Regions from separate parts of the Homo sapiens genome. Here region 2 is linked to region 1. The links come from fine-mapping of genetic effects on gene expression. Tissue or cell type: whole blood. Region 1 holds a variant in brackets; the other region holds the start of a gene. All regions are shown on one strand. Distances are between the middles of the regions.

Evidence for each region. PIP is the estimated chance that this variant, and not a neighbour inherited with it, causes the effect.
Region 2: ATP1B1 starts here. The variant in region 1 is fine-mapped to the expression of ATP1B1 in whole blood (TOPMed, PIP above 0.99).

Annotation. Positions count from the first base shown.
Region 1 is chr1:169,042,328-169,046,675 of GRCh38, reverse strand. The region is part of intron 3 of LINC00970 (long intergenic non-protein coding RNA 970); the gene reads left to right. Among named protein-coding and RNA genes, the nearest start is that of LINC00970, 43 kb to the left of the region's middle. RefSeq lists enhancers at 1,376-1,505, 2,058-2,317. The variant C/T (reference allele first, on the strand shown) is at 2,163.
Region 2 is chr1:169,104,288-169,108,461 of GRCh38, reverse strand. ATP1B1 (ATPase Na+/K+ transporting subunit beta 1) reads right to left here and starts at 1,772. Exons shown (of 6, transcript NM_001677.4): 1 at 1,536-1,772. The coding sequence starts at 1,632. It overlaps LOC101928596 (a long non-coding RNA gene), which reads right to left. Exons shown (of 2, transcript NR_135799.1): 1 at 3,969-4,174; 2 at 3,555-3,752. RefSeq lists enhancers at 1,063-1,635, 1,636-2,208, 1,997-2,291, 2,782-3,355 and a silencer at 1,805-2,724.

The DNA of each region.
Region 1 (4,348 bases):
CACAGAGCAAGTGTTCAATAAATGTCAACGATCATTGTTTTTGCCTCCCCTTTTTATGCTTCCTTTTTACCTTTGCCTACATTGCTAAGTGCTTTCACCTTGTTTCATGGTGAGTGTGTTTGTGGAGAGTGAAGATAGGAATGATAGGGCACAGAGGCATTTTTTTGTCTTATTTTTCAACTCACCTGATACATAAAAAAAATTGATGCTACTTATTGAGGACTGGGCATCACACATACTATGGTGTTTTTAAAGCATGTCCACAAATTTTCGGCACTATTTCAAATAAAAGGAGCGGTCTAATTCTGCTCTCCTAGAATACAGTCTGGTGGTAGTGATTTGCTTCTAATAAATAGAAGGCAATGGAAGTGATGTCACTGTGTGACTTTCCAGCCAGGCCAGAAAAGAGGATATGGTTTCACCTGTTTCTCTCTCAAGTGAGATACATGCCTTTGGAGCCCTGAGCTACCTCATAAGAAATCTGGAGACCTTGAAGGGACCATGCAGAAGGACCATGTGGTGGGTCCCAAAGGGATAGAGGGAGGTGCCTGGGGAGCCACAGCTGCTCCAGCCCCTGCTCCAGCTATTTGTCTTCCCAGCATGGGAACAAGACCTGTGAATGAAGAAGCCTTGAAATTGACCCCAGCTCTAGCCACTGACCAGTCTGCCTCAATCACCTGGGAGACCCCGATTCAGACTAGCTCAGCTCAGCTGCTCTCAAATTCCTGGCCTACAAAACCCACAAGAGCTAATAAACAGCATTGCTCTTGCAAGGCACTAAGTTTTGGGCTGATTTGTTATGTATTGCTAGATAACAAATAAACGCATGATATCAACTAATAACTCTGTGTGGCAGGTATTGTTATCTTAGTTTCACAAATGAAGAAACTAAGGTTTAGAGAACTTGAGAAGCATACATACAATACCGCTAGGGAGACACAGAGCTGGGACACAAACTTGTGTCCACGAGACTCCAGAGCTTGTCAAGGATCCTCTGCACCAGGAGGCTGCCTCACTGGATGCTGGAGGAGGTTGAAACAAATAGGTAAAATTGTGTTTTTCTGTATCTGCCCTACTAGCCTCTCATGATTCTAAGATTAAACACACGATCACATTGTGTTTGGAAGATCACCACCTGTTCAAAACACTCTAGGCTCATAGTTAACTGGCAGAACCAGCCCCTGAAGTGAATTTACTAAAAGGCTCTGTGTCCTGCGTCTCCTTAGGAACAGTGCTGGGTTTCAAAGTAGGCATCAGGGCAGGGCTGCTAGTTAAAGGGGGTGGTCAGCAGGCCCAGAGGGCCCAGGTTGCCCTGGGGAAGCCTGGAGAAGGCTGTGAAGTTCCAAGCTTAAGGCAGGCAAGGGAAGGCCATATGGTGTGTGGTGAAAAATGGCGGAGGAAAACAGAACAAACAAGGCTGAGGAGTGGGAGCACAGCTGAGAAGGAAGTGAGAAGAGCACGATGTAACGGAAGCTCTGGAGAGCAATGAGAGAAATCTTCACAGACTGGATGGCTGAATGCTCCCCAGAGACACAGAAGGGCTCTGCTGCTGCTGCCAAGGGGAAGCAATTGGTTTGATATTAGACCCAAGGGGATTTACATGCCAAGGTCCACTTTAGAATTTCTATCCTAACCTCTGAACCCATGTACTTCTAAAACGTATATGTAAATGTTTCTGAGAAGACAGGGTCCATTCATTCAGGTTAATGTCTATCAAGCATCTATTATGTGCTGGGTGACCAGTGACAATGGGACATATAGAATATAAATTAAACACATTTTCTGCCCAAGAGGAACAGGGTCTGGAGGGAAATGATAATTTTTGGACACCTATTGTGTGCCAGGTCCTATCTGGGGTGATTTACTTAAATTTTCTCATTTAATCTTGACACCTATTCTACAAAATAGGCATTACCTTTATAAGAAGCTGAGCTTAGAGAAATTAAATAACATGCTTAAAGTTATATACAGCAAGCAAGTGTGTGTGTTTTAACCCAGGTTAATCTAATTCTAAAACCCATAATTGTTCCGCTGTCAACCCTGCCTCTCAGGCTTATGGGTTCGCATTTCTGGGTGCAGATTTCATGGAACTGTGTACAGAGGGCTTTAAGTCAGCAGAGAGGAAGTGGTTAGTCCTGCCTTGAAGAAGGTGCAGGAGGGGA[C/T]GTGGTTTCACAGAAGTTATTAGATCAGGGCAGTGTAGGGAGAGGAGGAGTTTAGTAGTTAGAGAAGGACACTGTAGACAGAGGGAGTTGCAAGTCAGAGGGAACAGTGTGCCAGGCATGGAATGGAGGAAGACATAGTTGGAAAGACAGGCCAGGGCTAGACTGTGAGAAACTGTTTCTTTTCAAAGGAATATGGGCAAAGGGAAGCACTGAGGTTTTTAAGCAGGAAAGTGACTTGATCAGATGTGCCTTTTAGAAAGGTCATCCTGATAGCTCTTGGCAGTATTGTTAGGAGCAGAAAGAGCCTGGCCATTTTCACTTAGATGTTGCACTGACCTCTGAATCTCAAAAATCTCACAGTGAAATGCATGATCTGTCTTCTTCCTGCTTGCAAACTCTTATCTACTCCTGGGTACCCAACTTGGTAAGCACCTCACCATCCACCCAACTGACCAGGCCAGGGGCCTTGGCTTGTACAGAGGTGGGTGTGCACAGATGCTGACAAAGCTTAAGCATCAGGGCCCCTCACTCACATGAGCACTCTCCAGGCCCTGCACTGAATTTTGTGTTTGCAGCTTTGTAGTCAAGAGCTGTGCTAATCTCTTAGTTGTGCCATTTTTTCTCTTAAACTCTTTCTAATTTGGCTTTCAGCCACTATCTGCCACCTGGATCCCTGTAGTGGGTTTTGCTTAGGTTAGCCTGCTTCTCTACTTGCCACTGGAAATTTTATTCTCAAAGTAATTCTTCTAAAACATAAGTCAGGTCATGTTATTCCTCTGCTTAAAACCCTGTCATAGTTTTCACTGAGAGTAAAAGTCAAAGCCCTTACATTGCGCACTAGGGCCGTGCATCTCCTGACTGCTGTTTCCTTTTTGAGTTTTTGCCCACCACTCTTCCTTACACTTTGTGCTGCTCTAGCCACACTGGCCTGGAGCCACTCCTCAACACTCAGGCCCGCTCCCATTGTAGGGTCTTGGCTTTAACCTTTCCCTCTTTCAGGAGGCCCCTCCCACAGATATTTTCTCACCTCCCACAAGTCTGTGCTCAAGTCTTGCCTTCTTAATGAGACCTATTCTGACTACTATTCTTTTTTCTTTCCAACTTGTATTTTAGGTTCAGGGGGTACATGTGCATGTTTGTTACGTGGGTAAATTGTACGTCACAGGGGTTTTGTGTACAGATAATTTTGTCAACCAGGCAATCAGCATAGTACCTGATAGGTAGTTTTTCAATCCTCTCCCTCCTCCTACCCTCCACCCACAAGTAGGCCCCAGGGTCTATTGTTTCCTTCTTTGTGTCCATATGTACTCAATGTTTAGCTCCCATTTATAAATGAGAACATGTGGTATTTGGTTTTCTGTTCTTGTGTTAATTTGCTTAGGGTAATGGCCTCTAGCTGCATCCATGTTGCTGCCAAGGATATGATTTCATTCTTTTTTTGTGGCTATATAGTATTCCATGGTGTATATGTACCACATTTTTTTTTTATCCAGTCCATCATTGATGGGCACCTAGATTGATTCCATTTCTTTGCTATTGTGAATAGTGCTGCAGTTAACATACATGTGCTTGTCTGACCACTATTTTTAACACTGCAACCTGCCCCTTCCCCTCTCCCCTGCAGCCCTGGTTTACCATATTTTCAGAGATAGAAATCATACACTTTTATGTAACCTATGTATTAGCTAATGCTCTGTATCTATATATATTGACTTCCCAATTATTGATAACAATATTGACTCTTCAGAGAATTTTAAAGCTCAGAAATCCTTTTCATATCTATTCTCTCATAGGAATTATTGCCTTCCTGTTATACATAATAAAACTAAGCTCAGAGTTAAGTGAATTGTCTATTAATAACTACCAAATTTTGGCACCTACTCTGTGCCAGACACTATAAATATATCATGGCCAATGCTTACAATAGACCCATGAAGTGGATATTGTTTTCTGTGTCTTGCAGTTGAGAAAGCTCAGTGTTTGACACTTATGTGATGGTCTAAGTTCCCATTGCCTGTCACATCCAGGACTGCTTGATTCCAGAGCCTGTTCTTTTTCCATTGTTGTTCCTGTTCATTTCATTTCTTCATGCTGCCTCCCAGATGTGGGCTCAGCAAGGGGAGATACCTTGACTTAGATTTCTTCTTATGCATTTTTGAGCTAGTTTTTAAAATTTTCCATTTTAA
Region 2 (4,174 bases), 62 kb before region 1:
GGAGAAGGGTGCCCATACCGCAGTGCACCTTCCAGGCCTCCCTCAAGTTACAAGGAGTTGCCAGGGAGCTGTTCATTCTACACACACCCCACAGTTCTTCAGGTTTTCCTTTCCACAGTAAAACACAGGAAACTACCTTTATGCCTGAGACACTATGACAATAATCTCAATGAAGAAGTCTCCCCAAAATAAAATATAAAACAAAAGCTAAAAGCCATTAAAGAACTACATTTTCCATGGCTCAGGGATACCTATGCTTCCCAGTAACACCTTGGAAAGACGCTTCACCTTGACTAACCTTGAAGTGTGATGCATTATTAACCCTTTAATTTTCAATCAAGAGAGACTCACAGGCTGCATTTTTTTTTCTTTACAAAAATTCATATATTCCAGCTTCTTCCATTTCAAAATGTCAGCTAAGCACTATTTCCCTGACTCATTCTCCTGCCGATTCCCACAGATCCTCCCAAGCAGGAACACCAATCGGCCTCTGTTCAGGACTCCCTGAATGACTGCAGTGGTGGTGCCAGTGGTGTTGGTGGTGATGGTCATGATGATGATGATGATGATGATGATGTTGGAGGAGGAGGGGGCAGTGATGCAGCAGGGGGAGTTCCCTCCCTCCTTCCCTCACGCAGTCACGACTCATAGATTCGCCTACAACTCTGCCCTTCAAAATGACCTTTTTTTTAAAAAAAAAAAAGTCACCTTTCCGGAGAGGCTGAAAACAAGAAATCTAATTTTCGATGGAAAAAAGTCTATCCAACCAAGCAACAGGCTGCACAAAATATTTTAAGATCAGCTGCTCTGCGTTTATATTCCCTTCACCATAATCAACCCAACCTACTGACTGATCCACAACTGTCTGTGTAGACCTTGAAAACAACCAGACTTTGCCAGGTTTCGGGCCAAAGCTAAGAATCGGAGTCCTGAAATGGAGCTTATTGAACCATTTCTGGGTGGTGATGACTCCAGGGGAGGTCATGGAGGGAAATCCTTAGCCATCGCTGTGAAATACTACAGTGTGGATGGATTCCTCTCCACCCTTCTCTTTCCTCTCTTTTGAGATACGTATTTAGACTAGAAGAAAGATGCTGTAACACACAACCTCGTCTGCATTAGATCCCATCACCTCACGAGGTTCTCTCAAGACCCCAGATCTCATTTTTTTTTTAAGGACTCAGGACACGGGAGAGACAAATGTAGTCTCGCAGAGCCTGACTATTCCCAGGAGTAAAAGGCTCAACCGATGCACGGTAGGAAAGACTGCAAATTACCAAGCCAAGATCGCTACGATATGCATAACCTTCCGCCTGTCGTGTTCCAGCCCCGACCCTGCGCCCCACTCTGGGGACACCGCATTCCGCACAGGACTGCAAGCCCAGGCCGGCGCGACCCAGCAGCGTCCACCACCCTCGCCCCCGCCACCCCGGCCAGCGCGGTGGGTGCGGAACCGGCCGCGGACCCTGCGCAGGGGATGCGCCGCCCGGGAAAGATCAGACGCGGCGGCCGGGAGCTGCGGACCCCGTACTTACACCAACTGCCACCGGTCCTGCCCAGAAACTCCTTCTTCTCTGAGTTCCAGATGAATTTCTTCCAGCTGCCCTCCTCCTTGGCTTTCCCGCGGGCCATGGCGATGGCGGGTCAGCAGCTGCCGCGGTCCGGAGGGTGGGTGGCTGCGGCGCGCGCCCTGGCGTCCTCTGCGCCGCTCGGCTTCTCCGGCCTGGCTCTCTGCAGGCAGGACGCGCCGCTGCCGCTGCGGCTCTCGGAGTGCGAGACGCGCGGCGGAGGAGCCAAGGCAGGAGCAGGAGGAGGGGGAGGCGGCGGCGGCGGCGGCGGCGGGGCGGGGGCGGAGGGAGGGACGGCGCAGGCTGCGCGGCTCCGAGCCCCGCACCTATTGGTGGGCGCGCAGCCGCTCGCGGGCTTTCTTTGGTCCGCCGAGCGCTCCTCTAGCCCTTGGGGGGTCGGGGGCTCCGCGAACCCGTAGCTGCCGCTCCCGCTGCCACTGGGGACGTGTGCTGGGCCCCCGCCTCCCCTGACCTCTGCAGAGACAGGCCCGGGGTAGGAGAGTCAGAGAGGGAAGGACGGACAAGCGGACTGCGGGGCGCCACCGGCACTCCCGCCAGGAGCCGAGGAATTGGCTGCGCCCGCCCTACCTTTACTATATACCGCGCCCCGGCGGCCGTGCGCCCCGCCCTCTAGCGGCCCGGTGGCCAATCGCCGGCGCCAGGGGCAGGGACTCGGCCCGAGAGGGCGGGTTCGGGGCCGGCACAAAGGAGCCGCCGGGGCTAGAGGGGCCGCTTGGATCGCTGGGCGCGGGGCGTTGGGCGCGGGGCGAGGAGGAGGCGGGGGCGGCGGTGAGGGACGCGCAGGCAGCGCCGCGCAGCCCCCTCCCAGCTCCCGGCTGGGCGTGAACCGCCCCTTCCGTGGCTGGGGGATCCGCACCTGGGTCGCCCGGAGCCTCGAGGACCCCAGCCCGGCAGTCCTGGCCCAGCCTCCACGCCTCTGCCTGCCCGCCCGCGCTTTCGGCCTCCCTGGGCTGTGGGTCCACCCCTCCTGGGCGCTGGCGGGGTGGGGGAAGGTCACTCCGGGACGCCGGACTGGCGAGGACTCTGCCCAGCTCCGCCCCGCCTCCCGCTCCTGCACCTGCCGCCCCCTCGCACTCCCCGCCACTGCGGTTGCAGTTCCGGCCCTTCCCTCTTCTTTGCAGGCCAGCCCAGCCGGCAGCCCCGGTTCCTGACTGCCCGGCTGTGCCCCTTGTGGGCGGCCTGAACCACCTCGAGCAGGACAATTGCCAAACCCACCCAGGGCGGTAGCCCGCAGTGAGTTGTCCCGTAGAAACCAATTGAGACTCAGGCCAGTCTAGACCCCAGGCAACAATATCTGCACGTGACCCAGCCACCGAGGACTTTCTTGGTGCCCGGTCGGCGGCGGGTATTCTCATTGGCATGCTTTTATGCCCCCTTGGGGGTATCGATCCCTTTGTTCTGCTGTAAAATTCTTGGAGCCAAAGGACCTTTGGGAAAACCTAGCGCATAGGGCAAGATGTTGCAGACCTGGGGCATAGAGTACCCCTTCCCACTCTTTGTCCGCTGTTGCTGGAAAGCCAAACTCTTGGTTTCATCCCTCTCCTATGAGCCCCCAAGCAGCTTTATACATCCCTCTGAGGACAGTGACACAGCAGAAAACACCGGGATGCTTCTGCTTCCACTGCAGAGAAGCCCTATCCCCAGGGGCCATCATGGCCCATCTTGACGTCCCAGCCCCATATCAGAGAATTCCCCAATACCAGGATGCTTGTCCTTATCCTGGCCACCCTTCTGTCCCCAAGGTCAACCTCGCTGGCATAAAGACAAGCCCGAACTGATTAAGAATGAGCATTTTTCTAATCCTTCTCCAAGCTCGCCTGCAGGACCTGTGCAAACCTAAACATTCCTGAAATTCGGGGGAGAAGCGACCACCTATCCACCAAGCCCCAGTGGGGGAGGCTGCAGGGCTCTGTCAAGGGCATCCGAGAGAGAGAACAGCTTATTGAGAAAGGAAGCCACCTCTCGTTTAGCACCTGTAATGTTTATGTTGGAAAAACCCCAGCTTGGTAGTATGAGAGCTGCAGGAAGATGCTGCACTTGCGGGTATGATGACCCTGGTCCCCTTCAGGCAGAAGTTACCTTATCGAGTAGTTTTCCAGCAGGACAGGTTGCTGGGAAGGGTATGTGTTGTTGAGTGTCCATTACTGTAACAGGAGGGAAAACCTGTAGGCAGAATCAGCAAAAAGAGATGAGTGGGGAAAGGGTAGCATGGGAAGGGATGAGGCGGTTCTGGGAGTTGGTGGTGCCCTTACTTGTGCCCACTCCGTTCCTGTACCTTGATTCCCAACCCCCCTTCCAAAAGAAGCATATGGTAAGACAAAATATATAAAGAGAGTCTCCAGTGACAGATTTTCTTTTTTCCTAAAACAAGTGTCCTACCTTAGCTCTTCAGAGGTGTAGCAAACACCCAGTAGACTGATGCTTGGTCTCTAGTCTTTGATTTACTGTCTTCCACTGGGGAATATCTTCCCCTCTCAAATTTTAGGTCCCTAGCTCTACTCATCCCCCCTTCCCTGCATGGAAACTCTTCACAGGTTCAGATGAAGTCCTGAGGGTCACGTCTGCACAGCCAATGCAGCAGCTCA